2 separate regions of the Homo sapiens genome follow, and region 1 is reported to be linked to region 2. Evidence: microRNA targets listed by miRTarBase, many of them from high-throughput screens and not tested one by one. Region 2 holds a microRNA gene; the other region holds the end of a gene's coding sequence.
The links. Region 2 holds the annotated microRNA hsa-miR-6072 (UCCUCAUCACACUGCACCUUAG, at 5,476-5,497, opposite strand). A microRNA usually pairs through its seed, bases 2 to 8, with sites in the 3' UTR of a target mRNA and lowers its output. Matches are read on the target gene's strand: a 7mer-m8 pairs with bases 2 to 8, a 7mer-A1 pairs with bases 2 to 7 and ends in A, and an 8mer does both.

Region 1: miRTarBase lists PARL as a target of hsa-miR-6072. The part of its 3' UTR that is shown has no 7-base or 8-base seed match.

Annotation. Positions count from the first base shown.
Region 1 is chr3:183,822,001-183,832,074 of GRCh38, forward strand. PARL (presenilin associated rhomboid like) reads right to left here. Exons shown (of 10, transcript NM_018622.7): 10 at 7,271-7,709. The coding sequence ends at 7,598. It overlaps MAP6D1 (MAP6 domain containing 1), which reads right to left and starts at 3,577. Exons shown (of 3, transcript NM_024871.4): 1 at 3,147-3,577. The coding sequence starts at 3,547. RefSeq lists silencers at 3,155-3,284, 3,305-3,374, 3,435-3,784.
Region 2 is chr10:2,070,556-2,080,629 of GRCh38, forward strand. It overlaps MIR6072 (microRNA 6072), which reads right to left and starts at 5,534; the gene lies at 5,464-5,534. RefSeq lists enhancers at 1-239, 240-739.

The DNA of each region.
Region 1 (10,074 bases), not on the chromosome of region 2:
TAAGCATCCTTACAGCTAAATCTTTGTTCATATCATCATTTCTTTGGGATAAATTCCTAACTGTGGAATTAAAGAGCCAAAAAGTATGAACTTATCCCCCCAATTTTATTAGTTTTAAAAACCAAGCTGGGCACAGTGGCTGATGCCTTTAATTCCAGCACTTTGGGAGGCTGAGGCAGGAGGATCGCTTGAGCCCAGGAATTTGAGACCAGCCTGGGCAACATAAACCCCATCTCTAAAACACACACACACACACACACACACACACACACACACACACACACACACACACAAAACCCCACATGTAGTGCCCACCTGTGGTCTCAGCTACTCGGGAGGCTGAGGTGAGAAAATCACTTGAGCCTGGGAGGTTGAGGCTGCAGTGAACTGAGATCATGTCCCTGCACTCCAGCCTGGGCAACAGCAGCAACAACAACAAAACAAACAACAACAAAAAAACCCCCCAAAAACCCAACTGTATCAAGGCATTATTTCCAAACCATACAATTCATCCATTAAAAACATACAGCTGGATGACTTTTGACAAATGTAACCACTTGGGTACCACCACCATTATCAAGACACAAAGAACATTCCATGTCCCCAGGAGGAGGCTCCCTCATAGGTCGGCACTTTGTAAGGAACTCGCTGGGGGACAGTGGTTGCAGGGTGGGTCTTGCATTCACTGACACGTCCTCAAGCTGAGCCGCCAAAGCTGGAGTGGGCAACACTGAGCCGCAGCGCTCAGGCCCTAGACTAGCCAGCTGGAGGGGCCTGAATAGCGGAGAGTCTGGAAGGCCAGGGGTCCTGAGCGTGCAGCGCATTCCAGCGGCTGAAGTTCTAGGCACCAGAGCAGGGCAAGGGGTGGAGCTTGCAGGGAGACAGCTTCAGCTCCGGGAAGGAAGCGCTTTCTGTCAGTTACAACAGTCTGCCCATGGAGCGAGCTGACTTGCATGGCGCTGGGCTCCTCTTTACTAGGGATGTTCTAGCAGAGGCTTAGCTTTTATTTATTTGAAGCAAGGTCTTGCTCTGTTGCCTAGGTGGAGTGCAGTGGCACAAACACTGCTCACTGCAGCCTCGACCTCGCAGGCTTGAGGGATCCTCCCACCTCAGCCTCCCAAGTAGCTGGAATCACAGGCAGGCACCACCACGCCCAGCTAATTTTCTATTTTTTGTAGAGGCAGGGTCTCACTATGTTGCCCAGGCTGGTCTTGAACTCCTGGGCTCAAGTGATCCTCCCACCTAAGCTTCCCAAAGTGCTGGGATTACAGGTGTGAGCCACCATGCCTGGCTGGCTTAGCTTTTAGAAGGAGTCCCTCATCCGGGCATGGTGGCTCATGCCTGTAATCCCAGCACTTTGGGAGGCCGAGGCAGGCGGATCATGAGGTCAGGAGTTCAAGACCTGCCTGACCAACATGGTGAAACCCCATCTCTACTAAAAATACAAAAAATTAGCTGGGCGTGATGGCACACACCTATAATCCCAGCTACTCAGGAAGCTGAGGCAGAAGAATTGCTTGAACCTAGGAGGCGGAGGTTACAGTGAGCCAAGATGGCGCCACTGCTCTCCAGCCTGAGCGACAGAGCGAGACTCTGTCTCAAAAAAGAAAAAAATCAAAAATAAAAATAAAAATAAAAATTAACTGGGCATGGTGGCACAAGCCTGTAATCCCAGCTACTCGGGAGGCTGAGGCAGGAGAATTGCTGGAACCAGGGAGGCAGACATTGCAGTGAGCCGAGATTGCACCACTGCACTCCAGCCTGGGTGACAGAGCGAGACTCCGTCTCCAAAAAAAAAAGTTAAAAAGATAGGCAATACATGGACATGTTACAAAGGCAAAAAAAGCAATCGTTCAAAAGAGCAGAGTGAAAAGCCTTCCACCCCTGGCAGTCCCTATCAAGTTCCTCTCCCTAACGGTACCATCTCCTCAGACATCCATCAGGGCATCCTGTGCTTATTTGAGCATATGTGTGTATATTAATACCCCTTTTTAAAACACAAATAGCCTACGTGCTGCTGGGCACCTTGCTTTTTTGGTATGCGTATATTTAAGATCCGCTGGGTTTCAGTATCCCATTTCATGGCTGTGCTATAATTAACCAGTTCCCTACATCAGCAGGACAAGGGGTTTGTTGTACAATGTCTCCACCTATCTTACGCTCCTGAGCTCCCACCCTACCTTGTAGGATACCTGTAGGGAAAATTCCTAGTAGTGAAATAGCTGCATCAAAGGAAAAGTAGTGCTTTTAATAGTCCCACATTAGAAACACCCTAAATAGTCAATGGTAAGGAAGTAGATAAATAAAACTTGAAGATATAAAGGCATATCCATAGGATAAAATACTGCACGTTTATTAAAATTCATGTTGCAGAACATGTAGTAACACGGACAGACTTCTACAACTGGTGAAAAAAGTGTACAGTAAGAATCTAACCACGTAAAAATATATCAGTGCATATGCACCAAATGCACATTACGGAGTAGAAAGAACTCGTCTGGGGAGGGATCAAGGAGATACGTATTTTGTTGTAATTTCTGTACTTTCCCATTTTTCTACAGTATGAATTACTTTTGTGGTAAGAGGAAAAAAGGGAGAAAGCCCTCGGCTGTCCAGGAGCAGAGCTGGGCTGGGAGGTGGGGAGGGCCCGCGGACCCGTTCTCCCTGAAAGCCCCTGTCACAGTGGGACTCTGAAGGGCTCACCCACACGGGACCCTGCGCTCGGTCCTCACCACCAACGCCCGCACACTAGGCAGTGACCGGAGAGAGCTGGGGGACATGGCCTGCGCGCACCCCTCGCACGGCTAGGCCCGGCGGTGGGAGTTAAAGGGAGGCCGGTTCCAACTCGGCTGAAGGCAGGCCATTCTGACGGCTGCCCCCAGGAGGGCGGCTGCGAGGGCAGCGGTGCGCTCCCGGCACGGGGGTGCTCGAGCACTGAGTCCGGGCATGGAGCAGCGAAGGCGCCGCCTGCAGTGCCCACGGACCAAACGGGGGTGACCTCTGAGGCCGCCGGCAGCTCCGAGGTCGCGTGGGATCCGGGCTCCAGGCGCCTCCGCTCTGCCGCCCACCCCATCCCTCTGGCTCCGGGCCTCCGCGTCCTCCCACCACAGGGTGGGGACTCGTTGCGGTCCCTACCCAGCCCATACCTGTACGACGTGGTCACTGCTGCAGCCGCGTCCGCGTCGCCGATGGGCAGCACGTAGACCCCGCGGGCGCCGGGCGCAGGTGGCGCGGAGGACTGCGCGGAGGATTTGCCCCTGCGGCCGCCCGCCCCCGGTCCGCGCCCCGGCGGCGGATCCTTGGGCCCGGCGGGCGTGGTCCACAAGCCGAAGTCCCGCTGGTACTGAGTGAGCGGCACGTCCCGGCCGGAATCCCGGGCGCCCGCGGGAGGCTGGCCCCTGCGCGAGGCGGCGCCGCCCGTGCCCGGCTCCTCGCTGTCGAGGTCCGAGTAGCCGTGCAGAGTGAGCGGCACCGCCACGTCGGAGCGGTCCAGCTGGTTCCAGCGCCGCGCCAGGCAGCACAGGCGGCTGATACAGGGCCACGCCATGCCAGCCCCGGCGCCCGCCGCCCCGCTCCCGGCGCGCGGCGCTCCCGGCCGCGCCTCCTGCGCCCAGCGTCCCCGCCCCCGCGGCCCGCCCCGCGCCGCCGCAGCACCGCCCCCCGGCACGAGGGTGGGCGTCCCGGGAGGGGGCGCACTCGGCGGCAGCCCCACTTGGCCGGGGCCGGCTGCGCACGGCTGGAGCTGGAGGGAGCGCGGATGGGGGAAAGGCTGCACCGTCGCCAGGGGGCACCGGAAACCGCCTGCATTCATTTACAAGTGTCCATCTCGAAGAATGCCTCAGAATTGAATCCAAAGTTCCCTCAGTGTCATCTTATAAATGGCCCCGGCTTCGCAGAGGCCAAGGGCCCGATGGTCGCAGCTGGGAGCAGTCCGCCAGCCGGGAGGTTCTCCATGTGGCCTCGGGACGCCCAGCGACTGCTGCATTTGTGCCAGGCTGCACCGCATGGACTCCGCGGGCACAGGGGCAGGTGCAGCAATGAGGGTGTCAGAGAAGACTCGGGGCCCTGCTTCCCGGAGAACACGTGTTTCAGTCAGCCTGTGAGTCGCCGCCTATTTGCCTTTAGGATGCTAGTCTACATTTGTGACAACCAATCCACTTTTCATTAGAATTGGCATTAGCCACCAATCGACCTTTCCCTGGGTTCTGAAATTCCTAATTTTAAAGCATGGCCATTTGCAAAAGCTTTAGTTTGATAAAGCGGCCACAGAACTGGCCACAAGGCTATCAAGTTCCTTTCCTCCTGTGCATGCATGGCTGTTTTCAGGCAGAGCTGTTGAGGGATCCTCCAGCGTAAAGGCAGGTCTGTTCAATGCAGGACACCGTCTCAAACAACTCCCTGACCACCCACAAACGCTTTTCTGAATATTTGACACATGCTCTCGGTATACACTGCAGACCAATTACTAATAACACTACTGAGACAGCATTAATTACCCAGAGCTCCATTTCAAGGTTGTACTTGGAAGGTATCCAGTCTGCGCCTGGGAGGGGACTGCAGCACATCCCTGGCCAGTCAGAAAACAGATTCATCTCCCAAAACATTGCCTGTCTTAGCTTGAAGTTGTAGCAAAGTGACATGACGGCTGCCTAGAAGTGGCAGCAGGTCAGCTGAGCAGGCCAGGCCATGTCCCAGCAGGCAGCAGGCGAGGCGCCAGGTGTAGAGGGAGATCCTGGAAAATGACACACAGGGGCCGGGTCAGAGTGAACTCTTTGTGGACTGTCCGCCACGGCCCTGGGTTAGCCAGCCTGGCAGATGGCGCTTGGGACTAAAATTCTCCATCTCGCAGGAAAAGAGAGCAGCTCTCTTTTTATTACTTCATTGATCAAACAACAGTCAAAGAGCAGTTGCTATGTGCTAGGAATAATTCTGGGTGCCTTCAGGAGGTTTAGTGTGGTAGTGAGGGACGGAAGGAAGTGTAATTGAACTGACAAGGCCAGGTCAGCATGAGAGGGAGGCAGGCTGGGGAAAGCTGGACTCGCCACCTGTTGTGAGGGAGGGTGGTTGGGCCAGGTGGGAATGTAGGTCACGGGGGAGGAGGGTTCAGCTGAGGTAGCAGACCATGGAGGGTCTTGGTGGCCACACTAAGGAATTTTAGCTTTTCATATGGCCGGGTGCAGATGGCTCATGCGTGGAATCCCAGCACTTTGGGAGGCTGAGGCAAGAGGACTGCTTGAGCCCAGGAGTTTGAGAACTGCCTGGGCAACACAGTGAGACCCTGTCTCTACAAAAAACTTTTAAAAATTAGCCAGGCGTGGTAGTGTGTGCCTGCAGTGCCAGCTACTTGGAGGCTGAGGCTTGAGCCCAGGACTTCAAGGCTACAGTGAGCTATGATTGCACCACTGAACTCCAGCCTGGACGAGAGAGAGAGAGAGAGACCCTGTCTCAAATAAATAAAAGTTTTTCACAGGTGACAACAAAGGAATGACAGACATGTTTTTAGCACTCTGGCAGGCATATGGAGAAGCACAGGGTTGCTTTGGAGACCAGCTGGAAGAACAGGCTCAACAGTCCAGGGACTAAGAAGTGAGGACCACCACGGAGTCACAGGCACTGGGAAGGCTGAGGGGCTGAATTCTAGAAATAAGAGGCGAGAGAGGGAGATCTCGAATGGCTCCGGGTTTCAGACTTCACCGATTGCTCGTGTCACTCCTTAAGCCGAGTGCTATTTGAGGGGCCTGTGCAGGGCGGGGGGGTGGTCCCAGAGCCTGGAACCATGCGTGTGTTGCAGTAGACACATTTACTAAGAGTACAGAGAGATTCTGTGGGTCTGGAGCTCAGAATCCTCACAGATAACTGAGGCTTCAGCAAGTGCACCCACTCAAGAAGTGTATGGAATGAGGGAGACGGCAGCCACGGCATGTTCCTAGGTACCCCACACTTCAGATGCCAGTGGAGGCGGCACAGCCCAAGAGGCCCACGGGCCAGGGAGTGCATGGCCTTGAAGGCAGTGATCGCGGGTCCCCAGAGAAGCCAAGAGGAGAAAGTGAAGCACCCTCGTGGGCAATCAGGAGGGAGCTGTGGACAGCAAGGCTTCTCCGGCCACAGCCAGGTTCTGGCCTCCCCAGGCCATGCACAGAGGCTCCAGCATTGAGGGGTTTTAGGGACCAGGAGATGCTACAGGGACTTCTAACTTTTTCCCAGTCACAAAGCAGGGACACAGAGATGTCTTCATTGCCTCTTTGCCTGGTCTGCCCAAAGCACGATGTGAATTAATGTTGGGCTCTAGAGGGAATGTCCCTATGAACTCAGCCTCCTATCCCATCTCTGGAAAACGCATCTTGCCTCATCTGTGTTGCAGAGTTGTTAGCAGATGTCAGAGCAAAGCATTGTGACCTTGGGCAGTGCCCCTACACCACGTGTGCCGTTTCCTCGCTGGCAAAATGATGGCTAAGATAACTCTCTCCCCTAGAAGTGATACGAGTTTAGAACAGAATCCTGTGCCTGGGAAGAATAACTGTAAATCATAGTAGAAACAAGTCCAGCCTGATGGAAGAAGGATATGAAGGACTGCCAAATACTGGACAATTTCTATGTGCTGGGCGCGTGCTGCCATGCAGTTCTCACTTGCCTGGTGAGGTGGGCACCACTCCCACTCCTTTTCCAAAGCCGCCATTCCCATCCCCCACGGCACACAACCTGAGTCCGATCGGCCACAGGAGGCTGAAATCAGGGCCTTCGATCCTCCCAGGACAAAGCTGCAAGACTTGGTATAACATTTTGAAGCCATCAAAAGACTAAAAATTCTCCTGTAAATGACTTCAAGAAGAACATACTCTCAAACTGCATTTCCTAGATGTCATTCTCAGTCACGAGGGTAACATGAATTCCACAACAGTGAGGCTGTGACGACGACAGCCACTATCTGCTATTTCAGTGAGACGCTTCAATTAGAACACTTTCAAACAGAAGATAAAATTCGGCTCAGATTCAAGTCTGAATTTACCCAAATCACTTCTTTCTACCTCTTAATTTATCTACAAATTGAACCTAGAAAGCAAAACCTGAAAATAGCTTTTTGTATATGCCACTCACTGCCAGAAAACACTACCTTTCCTGAAAATTGAGAAAATACTGCAGCTGTTATTTCAGATTGTGCTGGAGAGGGGATACTCTCGACTTTTATGTGCAGCCAACCCAGGGGAGGGGGAGGCAAGGAAGAGTGAAGGCTAAGCAGAGGCACTGGAGGGTCCAAAGACAGGCAACCAGCGCCTTCATGTTCTGATCAGGCCTTTCAGGGTGCACTCTCCCCAGGTCCTGTCAATGCAACAACCAAAGCAAAATGCCAGAGCCGTGTCGGCCCCTTAAAGAGAGAACACACACATCTGCTTACAAACTAGATAGAAACCTTTATTTCACAACTTTATCATCATTCACATTCTAAAAAGACACGGACTGGGGGACACAGCTGAAAACAGTGGGAGGCCAGATGCTGGCATCTTCCAGACGGGAGCATAGCCATGGTCACTCTAGCCGATGTCTCCTGGGGCTCTCAGGCGGCAAGGACCAGATGCACCACTACTGTCCAATCCCAGTTTTACTTAGAGCCACCTCCTTTTTTGGGGCCATTAGTCCTTATTTCATGCCAGATTTTCACTAGCGGCTCCCTGTTCTTCCAAATCAGTTCATGACCGTAAGTAACATACCATCTGGAGAAAAACAAACCAGGTCCGACATTCAAACAGTGTGACATACAAATGGTAAGTAGCATGGTGACAGATCCCAAGTTGACATTTTTAAAATCGAATGCCACTCACTATGTAGCCGATTAAAACTGACTCACATCGAGAAATGGTTTAGCTTTCATATTACAATATGTAAAAGGTAGAAGTAGGATGGGACGATGGCTGAATGCTCCGCAGTGTGTGAGTACTTCACATATACTACTTTTGATTCACCACTATCTGCAAGTTAAGTATCAGTTTTCCCATCGCAGACATGAAGCAACCAGGTCTGAAAGAAAGTAGTTTGTCCAAGGTGCTAATAGTTTCTAAGTGGTCAATGAAAGCTCACTCGCAGGTCAGACTGACTCGATGTTCTGAAGTGTCAGAATTAGCACTGACTCAGGATGGCTATCCCAGCTTCCATGCCTCCCGTCATCTTCCTCCTAACTATACGAAGGGTGGCCCGCTCATCCAAACTCTGCCCCGCTTTAAGATACCTAGTTCCCATCCCCACTCTCCTGTTCACACAGCCTAACTGCGGCCTGAAGCAACGAGCCTGGGAGGCTGACGCACAGAGAGGTTTAGTAACTTCGCCTGCTCAGGTTCCACAACTAGGAATCAGCAGACTGAGACTAGAACCCGAGTCTGCTGCTGAAGCCTGTGCTGCAGGCACTGGACTTTCCTGCAGCGTGTAGGGAGCATCTTCTGTGAGCTGGGGAGCACACTGCGCTCTGGGAAGGGCCTGCCTTGGAGAAGCTCCTGAGGGCACTGGGGGTAGAGAAAGGCTTCCTGGAGGATGTGGGGTGGATTTCCAGGGGCAGTTAGTGAGAGCTTGCTATTAAAACCTTTATTTTTGCTCTGGCTTCCCCAAACAGATTTCATGTTCCCTGAGGCAGAGACCAGATTTTGTTATCTTGCATCGAGCTCCCAGACACCTGACTGAAAAAATGCTATTTGACTTGGAGTGGGTGAGAAGAGCAGTTTAATGTTTTAATATTTTAAAAATGTTCTGAATGTGTATGTTTAATTATAAAGGGCTTGATTTGTACCTGAATCTTAATATTCACTAAATATAGTTAAAATCTGATTATACACATTAATTAACAGGCATGTAATAAAAATTCTCTGTGCTTAAGTCTCTGGTGAATTTAGAATGAGAGAAAAAGGAGCACCCTAATATTCAAATGCAATTATAAAAATTCTCCCCAAAAAAATCACTTTGTCAGGAACTCTTCATTAATAAAGTGTTTTCCCAAATCTTTTTTGTTGTTAGACAGAGTCGCGCTCTGTTGCCCAGGCTGGAGTGCAGTGGCGTGATCTCAGCTCACTGTAACCTCTGCCTCCTGGCTTCAAGTGATTCTCCTGCCTCAGCCTCCAAGTAGCTGGTATTACAGGCATGCACCACCACGCCCGGCTAATTTTTGTATTTTTAGTAGAGACGAGGTTTCCCCATATTGGTCAGGCTGGTCTCGAACTCCTGACCTCAAGTGATCTACTTGCCTCAGCCTCCCAAAGTGCTGGGATTACAGGCGTGAGCCACTGCGCCCGGCCACCCAAATCTTTTTAACCTACTTATTTCAAGCAAAGAGTCAAATACTTTAATTTCACAGGTATACTGTCTGATTATACTCATAAATCCAAAAGGAATTTTTCATTTGGCTAAACTAAAATCGGGAAATGCAAGATGACCGATTTCTAGGGCACTCTTTTCTGTAGCGGCAGCGCAAGCCAGCCCTCATCTGAAACTCCAGCTCTGCAATTGTTACTTGTGTGACCTGGATAAGTTACTTTCTTTAAGCAGTTTCTTTTTCTGTAAAATAAAATACCTCACAGGATTTTAAGAGAATTAAATCCTTAGCTTAGGCACACAGCAAATATTCAGCGTATTAATATGTTAGCTATTATTATTGCAACAGTACAATGTGAATACTGTAAGGTTTGGTCAGAGGCAAAGTCAGGGAAATGTATAAGTGGATACTAATGGAGTCTTTACCACCAACAAAATCAGGGCACTTCAACGAAAAAAAAATAAATAAAAGATTTTAGATTTCTAAATCTAGATTAAAGCTTTTAGAAAAGATGAATTCTGGACATGACTGAAATCTAGTAAATGAAAAGGAGTTTAAATTAGAAACAGTAAAGAGAAAGGATTCCTCCACCTTTCAGACCCTGGACTTTAAAATGCATTTGATCCAATTATTTTCAGAATGGAAAAAGGCCACCTAATTATAGTTCAGATGAATAAAAATCTACTGGGGAGAAGAGCCTTGAAGTATACATGGAAGATAAATTTAGAGCTCACAAAACAGAACCCCTTCATGTTTCTCATACTGTAATATCAGGTCAGTTT
Region 2 (10,074 bases):
TGCCTGGTGTCAAAGCCATCTCTGGTCTTCTGGGTTTGCTGCTATCAGTGTGAAACCCACCAGCAAGCTGGGTCAGGGCCACCTGCCTAGGAAGCTCAGCCCTCAGCCTGGGAGGAGCTTCTGCCCTACAAAGCGGGGCTGGCTGAGGGAAAGAGCTGCATCCTGCGATGGAAGTCGCCTGGGACTTAGCTCAGGGACATCCAGCCAGGGGGAGTAAGGAAGCTGGTGCCCTGCTCCTCCCAGAAAATCACCAGGACCCGAAAGACCATGAGGAGAGGGAGCCTCCTCCTGACCCTGCGGCCGCCCAGAGTGGAGCTGTGTCCTGCTGAGCAGGGCTGGGAGGGCCACACGCCCTTCTTAGCTCTACAGAGACCTGGTAGACTTTCTTGAGGAGACACTTTTCAGTTGCTATATACCTGTAGGATGTTTCCAAAGACTTTAAAGCACACTTTTTAAAAATTCCTTTTACGAGTCATGGTTTGTTTCTCTGGGAAGTGGGTTCACTGCCCTCAAATCACTTTTCCTGATATGACCGCTGTTGATTGTTAGGAAGAGTGGAGGGCTGTGCATTTTTATTACGATTTTCAGAGAAGTTCCCAGATACTATTTTTTTAAATCAACCCTCCTTTTAAGTCTTGGAAACTTTCTAGATATAGAAGATACTAGAGGAAGTTTGAATGTGAAGAATCACATGGTTATGGCTCTGTGGGCAGGGGGTTGTTTTCTTATTTTCGTAATTGCTTTTTTTTTTTTTTTTTTTTTTTTTTGAGATGGAGTCTCGCTCTGTCGCCCACGCTGGAGTGCAGTGGCGCGATCTCGGTTCACTGAAAGCTCCACCTCCCGGGTTCATGCCATTCTCCTGCCTCAGCTTCCTGAGTAGCTGGGACTACAGGCACCCGCCACCATGCCCGGCTAATTTTTTTGTATTTTTAGTAGAGACGGGGTTTCTCCATGTTAGCCAGGATGGTCTCGATCTCCTGACCTCTTGATGCGCCCACCTCAGCCTCCCAAAGCCCTGGGATTACAGATATGAGCCGCTGCACCTGGCCATAATTACTTCTTTAAATAAAATTGGATTCTAAATGAAAATTGAAAGCCGTGGGCTGTGTCTTTCCCTTTCAGTCCTCAGGCTGATTTCCTCACCCCCGGGAGCAATCCCTTAAATGGTGATTGTTTTCATCATTGTTACACAACCGTGATTGTTTAGTCAGCTGTGACTAGAAGATCAATGTATCATTTTTTCTCTGTCTTACTTTCTCTTTCCCAAATGTTTTTGTTATTTTCTTATTTTTAGTTTTATCTTTGTTACCTCTTTAATCATAAATGCTCTTTCATAATCAACTTTTTAATTTCCCTCTCTATGCTTCGTGTTAGACTTAATCACATCATTGCTTTTGTTACCCAAAATGGCGGCATACAGGCAAGTTCCAACCATTCAATGTATGTGTATGATGATTCTAAACACGAAAATTGAATAAGCAATATTAACAGTATTATAGTTATCTGAATGTTATTTGTCACATACGTAACAAATTCTCGTGACACTAAAATGAAAGAAAATTTCTTGTCAAAGTTAAAAATATTTGTGTTCATTACACTCTTTTATTGGATCCAATTGCCCACGTTTAATCTCTCACTTTTGTGCCATGTTTTTATTTTATAGAAGTGGTTTTCACCTGCACTTGTAACTGGCGTTTGAGTATTGTTGGCACACTCACCGGAAGAATGTTCCCCTCCCCTGCCCCAAACCTCACATCTTCATCCTGATTAGATTGAGTTTCAGTTCTGCCAAGGACCACCCTGAATTTATTTTTTCTTGAAAGATGGTTAGAAAGACACTTTTTCTTTGTCTGAAACTGTGTTTATTATTGAGCAATAATTTGGTTTGATATGGGATTTGATCTTAAAAAGTACCTTCCTTTGAAATTGATATGACACTCCATTGCCTTTAAGAACGAAAGTGGTCAAGGCTGGTCTACTTCTGAGGCTTTTGAAGGGAACCCGCTCTTCATTTCTTCCTGGGCAGCTCTTGAGAGCATCCTTCTATCACTGCGTTCCATGGTAGCTCATCCATTCTGGTTGTGTTGCTCCGTGTACCCTTCTGCATGAAAAGTCATCCTTCTTCAGCTTGTAACAGTGCAGCTTTTATTTGAAATAAAAGTTTATCCTCCGTGGCATGGTCTCCACTCTTTCTTTCTGCCCCTCCTATAAAGTGTACATTACCAGTCTTGAATCATTGGCTTTGCCTGAATGAATTGTCTTGCTCACCTGTTTTCTAGATTTGTTGTTGTATTCTAATTATCTGAGTGTTTTTAGATTTGTACTATAAATATCCTATTGGTTTTTTTACATTGTAATAATTATATTTCAAATGACTTGTTTTGTTTTGTTTTTTTGAGATGGAGCTTCGCTCTGTCACCCAGGCTGGAGTGCAGTGTCGTGATCTTGGCTCACTGCAACCTCCGCCCCCCAGGTTCAAGCGATTCTACTGCTTCAGCCTCCTGATTAGCTGGGACTACAAGCGTGTGCCACCACGCCTGGCTAATTTATGATTATACTTCAAATGACAAGACTAATTTTTAAAATCTCTGCATAGTTCCTTTATTAGAACAGCCTATTCTTGTATTGTAATTGGCTTCCCTCAAGTTTTCTATAAGGTGTTTAATGAAAATTAAATGTGCTAATTTTGTATATTTTGTGCTCTTCAGTTCTCCACTGTCTGTACTGATGGCCAGCAGCTTCTGTTGTGATTGTTCCTATTCATGACTTTCTTTCATAGTGCTTCACATGTATGTTCATTGATGTGTATTTGTACGTCAAAATCACATTTTTTTGGTTAATATAAAATGGTGATGTATTTATTTTCCTTTTCTACCCACAGTCTGGTAAATCAGACGTTTATAATCTATAGGGCAGTGTTGGGGAAGCGCTTTGCAGATGGGCTGGGAAGTGAATAGCTAAGCTTCAGTTCAACGTGGCTGCACAGTGGGCTGTTGAATTGGTTGAGACTCCCTCAGGTGCCACACTCAGCTGCATTCCCCCCTGGAAACATCGCCCAGCACAGCAGATCAACTGGAAGATTTGGGATATCATTTGTCTTTGTGCAGGAACTTGGGCTTGAACTTGAGGAAAGAAATTGCATGAGGACCTTACAGGTCATCTGCAAATAGCCATTAATTAATTAATTAATTAACCACCTTGACTCCATACCCACATCTGCCCTCTCTAAATGCCAAACAATAAATTGGGAGCTTTGCCAGGATATCTTCCTCTCACTTTGAATTTGTGTTTGAGACGAGTCCTTTCTTCTGTGATGTATCTATTAGATAAACCTTATCTATTTTCTATCTTATACAAATTTGCCAAAATAGCTCATCTACCAGAGCCCATATTCCTACTCTTAAAACCACAATCATTGCATCCCTTTGGTGTTCTTTATGTTTATTCCAGTCAAATTTGGGAAACAATAGAATTAAATACATATGGTAAATTGTTGTTTTTGACCTGTTGTGTGTTTACTGCCTAAGGCCAGTAGGGACTGTGAAAACAAACAAACAAACAAACAAACAAACAAAACTTATCATGGCAACAACAATCCAATCCTGTATTCTGAACTTGGGTTTCCTGTATCAGGTATCCTATATCCTGAATCTTAATGAATGTTTTCTGTTTATGTTGTCCTTGCTCACATTTCAAAGCTAAGCCTAACCTTGGTCAGTGTGTCCATCGCCTAATATTTTCCCTTTATTTCACTGACAAAGACAATTTAGTAAGACTTATGTCACTAAGCAAATTTCCATTTGTAGACACTGAATTGTTTTTTTTTTTTGTCTTTTTTTAATATACTTTAAGTTTTAGGGTACATGTGCACATTGTGCAGGTTAGTTACATATGTATACATGTGCCATGCTGGTGTGCTGCACCCACTAACTCATCATCTAGCATTAGGTATATCTCCCATTGCTATCCCTCCCCCCTCCCTCCACCCCACAACAGTCCCCAGAGTGTGATATTCCCCTTCCTGACACTGAATTGTTATACAGAAATAACTTATCAAGGAAGATATATGCAGCTTGCATAAAATGTGATTTTTAAAAAGTGTATGATTTTTTGTTTGTTTGTTTTGTTTTGCAGAGACAGGGTCCTGCTATGTTGCCCAGGCTGGTCTCAACCTCTTGGCCTTAAGTAATCCTTCCTGGTTGACTTCTCAAAGTTCTGGGATTATAGGCGTCAGCCACCATGCCTAGTATTGGGTGTCTTTAATTTCAGAGGGTTAGAATTATTCAAATCATAATGATCATACATACCATGGAGATACCCAAACTTTCACAGTTCCTAACCTCTTATCTTCACAGCCTCTCTGGCAATACCCTGAGATAGATAGAAACTGTACCTCTTTCTGTTGTATAAAAGTGGGCACCACCAGCTCTGGGAGTTACATTCCTGCAACTGAGCAGAATCGCCCATCCAGCTCCATTGAGCAGAATCGCCCATCCAGCTCCATTGAGCAGAATCGCCCATCCAGCTCCATTGAGCAGAATTGCCCATCCAGCTCCATTGAGCAGAATTGCCCATCCAGCTCCATTGAGCAGAACCGCCCATCCAGCTCCATCCTGCCACCTGGACACAGTGCAACCTGAGTGTGATATCGCAAACTAACAGCTCTGCACTGGGGCAGTAGGGTCAGCAGTGTGAATTTTATTTAAACTCACAAGATGTAAATATCATACCACGTTCAGAATGGAGCTTTTTGGATGCCTATTCTTCTGTCTCATTTCATAAATTCCTGAAGACAGTGAAAGGCAATGCAGATGGGCTTAATTATTATCTTCTTCTGCCTGAGCATGCTGTGAGAAAAGATTAACGGGAGGGAGAGAAAGAAGAGATAAAATATCCATGACACAAATTAGTATTTAGCATACATTTTGAAATCATGCTGTTTCTGCCAGCTTCATGCGTCTTGCCTCATGCTTCTCAACATACAGCAGACCACGACTCCTAATTTCTAGCTTGATCATATTACTATCTATGTTTCAAGCACATTTTCTCCTAGGTTTCTGATATCTCCAAATGTCTTGCACTATATAATTCTGCAGAGAAAGTATGAAAGTTGATCAGGATAAAACATAGAGAATCCTGTTTTAAAGGAGGGCAAACAGACCCTTGGTACCATTCTCGCCATTGTTCTTGAAGCTTGAGAAATTCTAGGTTGTGTGCTGAGCAGTTACAGGAGCTGTGGTATTAACGAACTGCCACATTAAATAAAAATAGGTTCGTACATTATGCACAATGAGTTGCCATGTTTAGCGTCTATTTCAATACTCATGGAAATAAGTTGAAGCACCTTGTTTAGTGCTATAATTTAAGAACTACTCTATGTAATGCAAACCAAAGATGAAATATGTTCATTTCAGCAGCAGCAAGCATATCTGAATGGAACCATCCTCTCGTTAGTAAGTGACTTCCAGGCAGCAGCTAAGGTGCAGTGTGATGAGGAGCAGTAGCAAAGCCCATCCCTGCACCAGCCCCCACCCTGCACCCCCAATTCCTGCCGCTGAACTTCTTCCTTGAAATTACCCAAGGGGAACGTTTTCCTCTGTGCCCTGCCGAAATTGTGCCCAGTCCTGTGCATCTCCCTAGTGGGTCCAGGACTCAGGACTCTGAACGGGCTGACAAGGGCACCTGGCCTCGGGCCTTGAAGGCAACCCCAGGAGTTCGAGTTTAGAACTCGGGAAGCAGGAACAGCTAAGGGCTACTTTGGAGGGGGCTTGTGTGTCTATGACCCGGCCTGAAGAAACAATGATCAGTGAAAACGTTCTTGGCTCATGACAATCCGTGCTTCCGGCTTTGTCAAGGATGTTCAAATGGAGAAGATGAATCATTGGAAAAATTGTGAAGAGGAAGAAATGAGTGTTCCTTTTGCACCTTCTTTATTGCTTCTGTCCTCCACCAAATATCCCCCAAAACCCTCCACTCAGGGCTCCTTGCACTAATGAGAGAGAACACAGTCTGCGGAAAACATTGTGCAGGGAAAACCCTCGGCATCCAGTATGAGGGACAGACTTCTAGGATGTCCAGCTCCATGTGCCAGGCCCCAGGGCACCCCAGCAATGACATAGGACTTCCACCTTCCCAGGTGCCCGGAGCTTTGGAGATGGTGTTGTCAAGAGCAGTGAGACGCATAGCACAGTCTCCACTGCCCCCATTGTCCCGGAATGAAAACGACACCCGCAACAGTCTGAGCAGCAGGGACACCCTGATCTTCCCGGGACTCGGCTTGCTTTGCAGCCTGGGCCACTGTCTTCTGTACCGCAGTCACTGCATAGCCAGCCCCGCAGGTGCCCCCACTGTATTTCCTAGAGAGAGCTGACTTCAGTCACTTGCCATATCAAGGAGAAAATGGTGAACATAGTGGCCGTCTATTTCATCAAAAGAGCAGGCCTACAGGTTCGTTTATTACTCATCCAACCCAAAGAAGAATCCTCTCTTCCTGGTTATGATCGCAGGCCAACCTCTGCCCAAGTGCCCCTCAAGTGAGGGACACACACAGTTGAATGGGCCCGCACCTGCTCATGGCACAGACTCAGCTGCTCTGTCTCTGTTGTGAGTCCCGGCACATGGGAAAAGCCAGTGGATGTTTAAGTCAATGAAGATCTAGAGAGAGAGAGATCAAACGATTTTGTCTCCTCCACTGACATGAACCATAAAGAAGAACCTTGAATGCATATTTTCCATTGCATAAAAAGGATTGGTACCGTTAAAACTATAAGAAGCTACTTTGAAAAAATGGAGAACTCTGAAACATGAATAACTGGAAACAAAGACGACAGTAACTATATCAAGTCTCTGAATACTGTGACTCACACAGGACCCTAGTGAGACTTTATGCGGTGACTCAGGAGTTTGTGCTGGGAAACTAGTCTATGACATAGAGAAAATTTTTTAATAAAATGAATATTATGAGAGAAAACCTACGAGCCATGAAAGAAAATAGAACCAGCACTTGTCAACTCTCCATAGGAAGTCCAGATGAGAAAGGAATAATAAAGAGGGAGTGATCAAAGACGTCACAAAAGAACATTCTCCTGAAATAAAAATACACTCAGTTTTCCATCTCGAAAGGGATCACTGAGTCTAGGGGAGATTCAAAAAGTAAAAAGATACACACGTGCTAGTAAAGATCTTAAGTTAAAAAATGAAGAATTCAATAAGTTTCCAAATAGAGAAAATAAATTGTCTGCCAGGAAATGACCACATTAGCATCAGACACACTAACTTTGATAACAACAACATCAACCCCACAGTCTTGTGAAGGTTGAATCAGTGTAAAGATTTTAGTTCAATGACTTGTAAACATAAGGTCCTATATACATTTTGTGTTTATTATTATTGAACATAGTTATTGCTACGGGGAGTAAACTCATTTTTGTACCACTATGAGATTGCAGAATTCTACTCTTAGAATTTTAGAATAGGTTAAAGTGTTCTTCATAGTTTTCACAGGACAAAGGACATTTTCAAACAAGTGTGGAATAAGAAACACTTTCAGAAGAGTAGATACTTGTGAAATAAGCGTCTGAAATCTGTCAAATTAAAATCTGAATCGGGAATATAAGTGGAAGAGTGGGGCTAAAGTGACAGGATAAAGAATGTCCATGCGAATGATAAGAGTATCTTCTGGTGCCAGATTTAGAAAAGATTGAAAATGATAATTTAAATCTAAAGAAAGTATTAAGAATGTAGTCCTACATTTTGTAACAAATATTTTATTACAAATTAGCAATGACTTAGAGCTAAAAGTCTGCATAAGTTTAATAGAGTCATGGGTATAGGAGAATAAAAGCTAAAATTTTGTTGAAAGTCTCGTGATGGGTTAGGATGCTGGTCTGAATTATTACATACTTCTTGAATCATGTTTAATTATGTTTTTCTCATAAATGAAAACAGCCAGTAGAAACACTGAAAAAGTAGAAAACATTTATGGAGAAATTTTACAACTCAGAGCAAGGGAAAGAATAATGAAAACACAAAAGAAATGATTAAAAGAAAAATATAGAACACGTTGTGAACAAGACTTAATCTAAAAATGATATGAGTGAAAAATTTGAAAATAAAGGAATAGGAAGATTTATAACATAAGAAAGCATATTATATAAGGATGTGATTATTTCATAATGTGTGTTTCAAAGGCAAAAATGTAAAATTTATAAATATGTTTTTATATCACTAGTTTTCGATACAAAATAAAATGCATTTTATTTCTATATTATTGAAGTCCAATTGAAGCCATTATACTATACATAGTTAAACTGTGTAATTTAATCAGCATCAGATATTTCTATAAAATCAACAACACAGCTGAGATTACAAAGTCTATTATTTATTTATTTATTTAGTACAGACAGGGTCTTGCTGTGTTGCCCAGGCTGGTCTGAAACTCCTGGCCTCGAGCAGTCCTCCTGCCTTGGCCTCCCAAAGTGCTGGGATTACATGCATGAGCCACCATGCCCATACTATTTTATTTTAACATGTAAACTGTTCACACATGTAACTTATTTACATATTTTAATATGTAAATATGCTTAATACTTTAGCCATAAATTTTCTCTGACAAGCTATATATTCTGTCTTCATGTTTCTTAAGCATCATGGGTGTATTAGTTTTCTAGGGTTGCTGTATGAGCCTACCATAAGCCTTCAACAACAGAAATGTGTGTCCTCACAGCTCTGGAGGCTGGACGTCCAGGGTCGAGGTTCGGGCACAGTTGGTTCCTCCTGAGGCCTCTCTCCATGGCTTACGCATGGCCCCCTTCCTTCTGTGTCTTCATGAGGTCTTTCCTCTGTGTGTGTCTGTGTCCTAATCTCATTTTATTGCAAGAATACAAGTCCTATTGGATTAGGGCCCACCCATATGACCTCATTTTAACATAATTATTTTTTTAAATAAAGACCCTACCTCCAAATACAGGCCCATTATGAAGTACAGGGGTTAAGACTTCAAGATGAATTTTTGTAGTTCACAGTTCAGTCCATAATCAGAGTTACTCCAGGTCCCCAAATTCATCTGGTGATCATCCATTTCCACCAGCTGTCAGTCAGCATACCTCATTCATTAACAATTAACTACCGCTAGTACCTAATCACTCACTCATTTCTACCATGTGCTTACTGCTTCAGAAAACGTACTGTTTCACCAAAGGCTATTGAATGTTTGTGAACAACGAAAACACAACAGAGAGAGGTCTATAGTTAGAGGGAACATCTGGAGTCCTGAACACCCTGACTGCAAAGTCAAAGCTGCTTTGTTGCAAAGGCAGGAGGGGGAGGAGGTGGACACGGCTCACCTGGGACACTGTGGCATTTCTTGGTGATTGATTACCTGAAGTCAGAGTCCAAAGTCTCAAGCTCTTTGAAGCTCACAAGTAAAACATGACCTTTAATATCAGCTGTTCCCAGCCCAGAGGGACAGAGTCACAAAGCCCAACTCCTACACTTGTGAGACAACATGGATGTTTATTGTTTATGCTAGTGAGGGCTTGTGGCTCATGACCTTAGTAAAGGGATACAGAGGTTGGGTCTAAAGAACCTAGATCTGACATAACAAGACCCTTTTCTGTGTAGCACTGGCCTTTGGACTGGAGATGGGGATGTGAGAAAATTGTGCACAAATCATTGAAAATTGTTGAGGAAAAATACTGAGAAAATTGTCCCTGGAGGCCAAAAAAATGTGAACCACGTGAGGTGACTGAGAAATGATCACAATTCTCTCACCTGCAAAATACCTGATGAACTTTCAGATGTGACCAACGGGATCTCCAGCCAAAATATTGAAAGTGCCAGCTACCTGATCTCGGCTGTTTATTGGAAGCTTTCAAAAGTAAAAAAGATGAGTGAAATAAAACATTGCCCAGTCTGTACAAGAATTTAGAAGGGATAGAGAGAGCCTGGTCTTGTGGGAATGGAAAATAAAGCCATTTCTGATCTTTCATCTCTTTCCAGCCAGCAAAAGACTCTCAAAATAATCTATAGCCTGGGGGCACGGACAAAATCAGTGGTGTGGCAGCATGACCCTTG